Linked DNA regions of Homo sapiens. The protein of the gene in region 1 purifies or fractionates together with the protein of each later gene. This does not show direct contact. Each region holds a gene or a part of one and is shown on either strand. Other genes may lie near its edges.

Region 1 (3,814 bases):
GCCTGGAGGCACCCGCAAGGAATAGGAGCCTATGGTCAGGAAGGCGGCTCTAGGGGTGTGTTCGTCCATTTAGTGTTGTGATAAAGGAACACGTGAGGCTGGGTAATTTATAAAGAAAAGGCGTTTATTTGACTTGGTGTTCTACAGGCTGTGTAGGAAGCATGGCACCGGCATGTGCCTCTGGTGAGGCCTCAGGAAGCTTTTACGCATGGTAAACGGGGAAGGGGATCCGGCGCATCACATGGCGAGACGGGGGCAAGTCGGGGAGGGAGGTGCCAGGCTCTTTTCAACAACCAGACCTCAGTCATTACTGCAAAGAGCCACTGATGAGGGTCTGTCCCATGACCCAAACACCCCCCACCAGGCCCCACTTCTAACACTGGGAGTCACGTTTCAGTGAGAGATTCGGAGAGGACAAACATCCAAACCATACCAGGGAGGCAGATCCAACGTCTCAGGGGTCACAGCCCCCCACATTCACCCTGAGCCCGGGCGCCCAGTTGGTGGAACCAGCCATCAGCCTTGTTCCCTTCCCTTTTCTCCTGGGGGCAGGCTGGTGATCCTGAGGGGCAGGAACGCGCATGCCCCCTCTGAGCCTCTATTTCCCCATCTTAAAAATGCGAGTGCTGTCAGCATGTGCGTGTGTGCGCTTGTGTGTACTGGGGGTTTACTGTGCGTTCTTGGCCCTGACTGCCCACCCCCGGGATGGTGTGGGCACCTGGAGCCTGGAGTCCCCGCGGGCTCACCCCCCACCCCCCCAGCCCAGCCACCACTTCCCTGCAGCCCCGGGGAGCTGCGGCTCCTGCGGAGGCAGGACGTGGCAGTCTTCCAAGTGTCGGCTGTCCAGGGCCTGGTCATCTCCTGGGAATGGCGTCCGCCAGGCGGGCTGGCCTGGCTGAGTGGCTCCTGGAACCAACCCCAAAGCCCAAGGTCACCCAGCAAAGTGGGGGCACAGGGGACTCAAACTACGTCTGGAGCCCGAGTTGAGGGGGAGGGGCTGGCCCTCCCTCCGCCCTCCGGCTTCCTCCTCTAACAAATCACGCGGCCTCACTCTCCAAGTTAGCGCCCCAGTGTGCTGCCCTCTTCAGGCGTCTCTCTGTAAGTGCAGCCACCTGCGCACACGCACATGATCAGACCTGAACACCCCAGCCTTGTGAGTTTGCTCAGCACGCATTTATTGAGCATCAGCTGTGTGAAAACCACAAGGCAGGACTGAAACAGGAGACAAACCAGAGGCATGTGAAGGGGAAATGGTCACAGCCTGGCCCAGGGGTCTCTATGATGAGCAAATGAATAAATGAAATTCAATGACAGTGGATACATTCCACATAGTGAAGGCACCAGGGAGGAAGTGACATCTGAGTTGGGCTCTAAAGCATGAGTAGGATTTTGGCGCACAAGGAGAGTAGATGATATGCCAGGCACAGGAAACAGCATGAGTAGAGATCTAGAGGTGGGGAAGCGAGGGGTGTGTTTGGATAACAACGTGTTTTCTGACCAGGAGGGAAGATGGACAGTCTTAGGGAGCAGTTCTTGAGCAGGCGAGCCAGCACCGGTGTTTCCTGGGAAGGGATCTGGAAGCGACCCTCAGAGAAATCCTGGCCTGTGCCCCCGAACCTTTTGTCCAAGGCATACTGGCCAAGTGTGCCCAGGTCAAAACTGTCAGGAGCTTCCTGGGCTTGGCTGGCTGTGGGTTGTACACAGCACCAGCAGGTGGAGCCCTTGACCCTTGGCTTCTTCCTGCCTGGGCCCAGGCTCCTGGGTCCTGCTCCCATTCTGTCCATCATCTGTCATGGGGCCTCTCAGTGGTCCTTGGACAACCACCAAGCAGGGGTCAGAGTTGGAAGCTGAGACTCAAATGGGGCATGTGGCTAAGAGCATGGTATTTTGAGCAACAGTCAGCTCTGACACCTGCTAGCTGCTCGCTGTATAATCCTGGGCAAGTTACCCCTCTGAGCCTCAGTTTCCTCATTTATAAAATGGACAGCTATGTAACGTGTTTTTTATGATGACTGGCACATGATAAGTGCCAGTTATCATAATTATATTAAGGCTCCAAGGACTGCACACCAAGCTGGGGAGGAATTAGGGAGCCCCTCCTGGCCTGGAAGGCTGCCCCCCACCCCCGGCCCATGAATCCAACACTCTTAGAGAAGAGGCAGCAGCACAGGGAGTCAGGGAACCCAGATGCTGGGAAGCCGGGTGACCTGATGGCCACCTCGGAAAATGACAGCCTGGCAGATTTGTGTGTAAGAGCTCTTCCACCCTTGCTGGTTGGTACTTGGGAACTCTGATGGCACTATGCATGGCATCTCTGGCATACTCACACCAAGCCCTGTAAAGCTGTCAGAGGTGGGGTTTATGGGCCTCATGCTGCCTCCTAGAGCAACTGTGGCCATAGCTAGCTGCCCTTTATGAGTTTACAAAGGGCTGTCCCCCTCCTCCTCCAGGGAGCATGTCTGAGCTGGCGGGCAGCGGGCCAGGGGCCAAGGCTGGCGTGCAATGTCTGGGCTGCCTAACTTTTGCCCCACACTCCTATCCAAGCTACTGTGGACTCTTCTGCCATAAATGACAGTTTGTCTCCAAGTGACATATTTGCCTCCTTTCTAGCCAGAGGTACCCTGGAGTCAATGCACATGTGTTTGCCCTGCCCATCTGGTCACTGAACCCCTGCTGTGTGCCAGCCCTGTCCCAGGGCCTGGGGATTCAGCCAGCAACAAAATAGGGCAAAGCTCTCTGTCCCTCAAGTGCCCATGTGCTACTGGGTGACAGACAATAAGTGATTAGGAAATTGTATAAAATCTTACACAATGACCAAGGCTTTGGAGAAAATGAAGCAGGGAAGTGGTGGAGGGGGGGTGCAATTTTAGGAGGAAGGGACTGGCTGCAGGCAAGGACAGGGAGGAAGTGAGGAGACCTGCCTGATCCCCAGAAGCCCAGCTTGCAGGTAAGGAAACTGAAGCCTGGAGAGGTGCAGCAACTTCCCCAAGGTCACACAGCGAGGAACTTAGAGCTGGTGCCCACCGACCTCTGTGCCCTGACAGACCTGGTCTGTCCTCCACCCACCCTCCCTGAGCTCCAAAGACCCAGCAGGAGTCTGTCTGCACCAGTGTCCTGCCCCTCCCAAGCTCAGCTTGACTCTGGTTCCTGTCTGCTGCCGAACAGGTTGTTCCACCCCTCCTTTTCACAGATGGGCAAACTGAGGCCAGAGAGGGGCCATGCCTGATGGAGATCGCCCAGCGGGCAGTTAGCACCCAGGTGGGTCCACACGTCCACAAGCCCTGGTTGGGGTGGTGGAGGGGGTGTCCTAGGGCTCCTGCCCCCACCCCAGCCTTGTTTTTCCTCTCTGGGCTGACACTGTTACCTTTGCTGCTGCTGCTGCTGCTGCTGCTGCTGCTGCTGCCGCCACCAGGCCAGAAAAACTCGCTGGGCAGGACTGGCTGCTGCCAGCATTAGGCCTGACTTGGTCCTTGGGGCTTTTCTGACAGCCCAGGGGTCAGCCTAGCCCCTTGTTCCCCTGGGTAGGTGGATGTAGGGGTCACACAGAGAGACAAAGATACTCATGATTGCTCAGTGAGAGACTCACACATAACAGTCACTCCACACAGTGGGAGACACACACAGACACACACACACAAGCATCCCAGGAATGCACACTCAGACACAATGGAGACGCTCTCACACCCCCGGCACTGCCCACTGAAGTGAATGGCTCCAGCAGCCTCTCCTCTCACCAACTCAGGCCCACAATCCCAGTGCCCCCTCCCTCCTCTGGCTCTGGGAGGCTCATGCAGCAGAGCCGGCTGCACTGGAT
Region 2 (3,814 bases), on another chromosome or scaffold:
TCACCTGAGGTCAAGAGTTTGAGACCAGCCTGGCCAACATGGCGAAACCCTGTCTGTAATAAAAATACAAAAATTATCCAGGTGTGGTGGCACATGCCTGTAATCCCAGCTAATCGGGAGGCTGAGGCAGGAGAATCACTTGAACCCAGGAGGCGGAGGTTACAGTGAGACGAGATTGTGCCACTGCACTCCAGCCTGGGAGACAGAGCAAGACTCCATCTCAAAAAAAAATAATAATAATAAGATGGATTCAAGGATGAAGGGATGGATAGGCATGCCATAGAGCAAACATAATAAAATTGTAATAAAATGTTAATTATAAAATCTGGGTGATGGGTATACGAGTGTTTACTGTACAATTCTTTAGACTTTTCTGTGTATTGAAAAATCTTCATGACAAAATGTTAGGGTAAAAACTTTATCACAAGACAAAATTCTAAAATGAAGTACAAAGTTTCTTCCTATTTTGTCTATAGCTGTAATAAATACTACATCAGAGGAGGTGAGAAGTAGTTGCCACTTTTACTATTATTTGTTTAAAACATCCTTACTGCTGTTACTTCTGGACCTTCCTGCCACTCCTAGAATACAGTCTCCCTCTCTGCTACAGTACACTCCATAATCTCTGTGGACTTCATCATCATTCCCATATGCAACCCAATACATCAACTTTAGAGCTCCTAATTGTCTTACCTGCTTCATCTCTGGAATCCTTTTTTTTTTTTTTTCTTTTTTTGAGACGGAGTTTCGCTCTTGTTGCCCAGGCTGGAGTGCAGTGACACAACCTTAGCTCACTGCAACCTCCACCTCCAGGTTTCAAGCGATTCTCCTACCTCAGCCTCCCGAACAGCTGGGACTACAGGCACACACCACCACATCCAGATAATTTTTGTATTTTTGGTAGAAGTGAGGTTTTGCCATGTTGGCCAGGCTGGTCTTGAACTCCTGAGCTCAAGTGATCTGCCCTCCTTGGCCTCTATCTCTGGAATCTTAAAACTCCAAAATATAACAATTGTCATCATCTCTAATCACATCCCCTATCTACTCCCACTATCCTTCTCTTCTAACTCACCAAGATTTTGAATCCATGGAGCCCTAATTTTTCTTCCAATCCATTATTTCTCTTATATACCCTTACTTCCTCTCTATCACTTGAAATATCCCTATCTTCTTAATCTCTACTGCCGCTACCTGCAACCAACTGTCTTCTCTCCCGGCTTACCTGAACAGATAAGCGCTATTGGAGGAAAATCTCACAACCACCAGATCAACCCTACTCTGAGTTTATGGTCTCCACATTCAGCACTGCTGAGCAATTCCTCTCTCTCCCTCTCTCTCTTGCTCTTTCTTTCCCATGGCTCACTGCAGCATCAGCCTCCTGAGCTCAAGGGATCCTCCCACCTCAGTCTCCCAAGTGGCTGGGACTACAGGTGCGTACCACCATGCCAGGCTTTTGTTTTGTTTTGTTTTTTGGTAGAGACGGTGTTTCACCATGTTGCCCAGGCTGGTCTTGAACTCCTGGTTTCAAGTGATCCTCTCACCTCAGGCTCCCAAGTGCTGGAATTGCAGGCATGAGCCACCGCACCTGGCTTGCAATTCCTTTCTAAGGCACTGGTTGGCTCCTCTACACTCCACAGCAGCAATTCCCAGACTTCATTATTCCTTCTAAAGTCCTTACTACTTTCCTTTTCTTCACTCTGTAAAAAAAATTTGCCTTTCATTTCATCATGAAAATGGAGGTGATTTGGCCAGGTGCAGTGACTCATGCCTGTAATCTCAGCACTTCGGTAGGCCGAGGCGGGCAGACTGCCTGAGCTCAGGAGTTCAAGACCAGCCTGGGCAACATGGTAAAACCCTGTCTCTACTAAAACACAAAAGATTAGCTGCGTGTGATGGAGTGCGCCTGTAATCCCAGCTACTGGGGAGGCTGAGGCAGAGTTGCTGGAACCTGGGAGGTGGAGGCTACAGTGAGCGGAGATCACACCACTGCACTCCAGCCTGGGCGACAAGAGCAAGACTCTGTCTCAAAAAAAAAAAAGAAAAGAAAAGAAAATAGAAGTGATTATTTAGCATGAACTCCCTGCTCCCCAACCTACAAACCCATCTTTATCACTTTCCCTCCTGTATCTCATAAGAAAAGATGTCATCACCCCTGCCAGAGGTAGCATCACTTAGTGTTTTATTCATTAATGTATTTAGAGACACAGTCTCACTCTGTAACCCAGGCTGGAGTGCAGTAGCCCAATCATAGCTCACTGCAGCCTCAAACACCTGAGCTCAAGCAATCTTCCCACTTCAGCCTCCTGAGTAGCTGAGACTACAGGCATGTACCACCATACCTGTCTTCTTTTTTTTTTTTTTTTCCCTTGTAGAGACAGGGTCTCACTATGTGGCCTAGGCTGTTCTCAAACTCCTCCTGCCTTGGCCTCCCAAAGTGTTGGCGTCAATAGCATGAGCCACCATGCCCAGCAATATAGTGTTTAAAAATACAGATTTTAGAGTTGGGGGAGGGAGGCCATGGTGCAAAAATAAATAAATAAAATAATTTTAAAAATAAAAATAAAGATTCTGTAACTAAATTACATGGGCAAATTTAACTTTCCAAACCTTGATTTTCTCTCCTGTAAAAAGGAAGCCGTAATAGTATCCTATGAGAATTAAATGAGAACACAGGTGAAGTGCTTACCTTATCTCCCAAACAGTTCAAGGCAAATCCCATTGCTTTGTGTTCCTGAATCTTCACCAGCATTCTCTATTAGCTCCTTCCTCAAAGGCTCTTAGTAAGTTTTTGTCATCTCCAAGCAAGAAGCAAAAATGTCTTACCCAATCTTGAATCTCTTTTTTGCCTCAGCACTATCTCTTTTCCCTTCCTTTCCAAGCTTCTAGAAAAAAATAATCTGAGCAAAAAGGTCAGCAGCCCTTGCTATTCTTACTTTTCCCATGTTCTTCCATCTTCTACTATCACAATAAAACTGCTCTGACATAGTGACCAATGACCCCTTAGCTGCCAAACTTAACACTTTTCAGGCCCTTTGACTTTTCTATAGCCTGGTATGATCAATGACTCTTTCTTTTCTTTCTATTTTTGTTTCTTTCTTTTTCTGAGACAGGGTTTTACCCTGTCACCCAGACGGCAGTGCAATGGCACGATCATGGCTCACCTCAGCCTCAACATCCCAGGCTCAGGCAATCCTCCCACCTCAGCCTCCTGAGTAGCCAGGACCACAGGTGCGTGCCACCAAGCCTGGCTAATTTTTTTTGTTTTTTGTTTTTCTTTTTGTTCTTTTCTTTTTTTTTTTTCTTTTTTTCTGAGATGGAGTTTCACTCTTGTTGCCCAAGCTGGAGTGCAATGGCACAATCTCAGCTCACCATAACCTCTGCCTCCTGGGTTCAAGCAATTCTCCTGCCTCAGCCTCCTGAGTAGCTAGGATTACAGGCATGCGCCACCACGCCCAGCTAATTTTGTATTTTTAGTAGAGATGGGGTTTCTCCATGTTGGTTAGGCTGGTATCGAACTCCTGACCTCAGGTGATCCCCCGCCTCAGCCTCTCAAAGTGCTGGGATTACAGGCGTGAGCCACCTGGCCCGGCTGATTTGTTTTTGTTTCTTTTTGAAACAGAGTCTAGCTCTGTCACCCAGGCTGGAGTACAGTGGTGTGATCTCAGCTCACTGAAGCCTCCAACTCCCAGGATTCTTGTGTCTCAGCCTCCCGAGTAGCTGGGATTACAGGCGTGCACCACCACGTCAGGCTAATTTTTGTATTTTTAGTAAAGACAGGGGTTTCACTATGTTGGCCAGGCTGGTCTCAAACTCC

What was found.
Region 2: the proteins of GRAP (region 1) and SOS1 fractionate together in Homo sapiens (co-fractionation; one study listed by BioGRID). This does not show direct contact.

The regions. Positions count from the first base shown.
Region 1 is NC_000017.11:19,029,820-19,033,633, reverse strand, and holds part of GRAP (GRB2-related adapter protein), read left to right. Parts: intron 1-3,814. UniProt on the Homo sapiens protein: Couples signals from receptor and cytoplasmic tyrosine kinases to the Ras signaling pathway. Plays a role in the inner ear and in hearing.
Region 2 is NC_000002.12:39,111,011-39,114,824, forward strand, and holds part of SOS1 (son of sevenless homolog 1), read right to left. Parts: intron 1-3,814.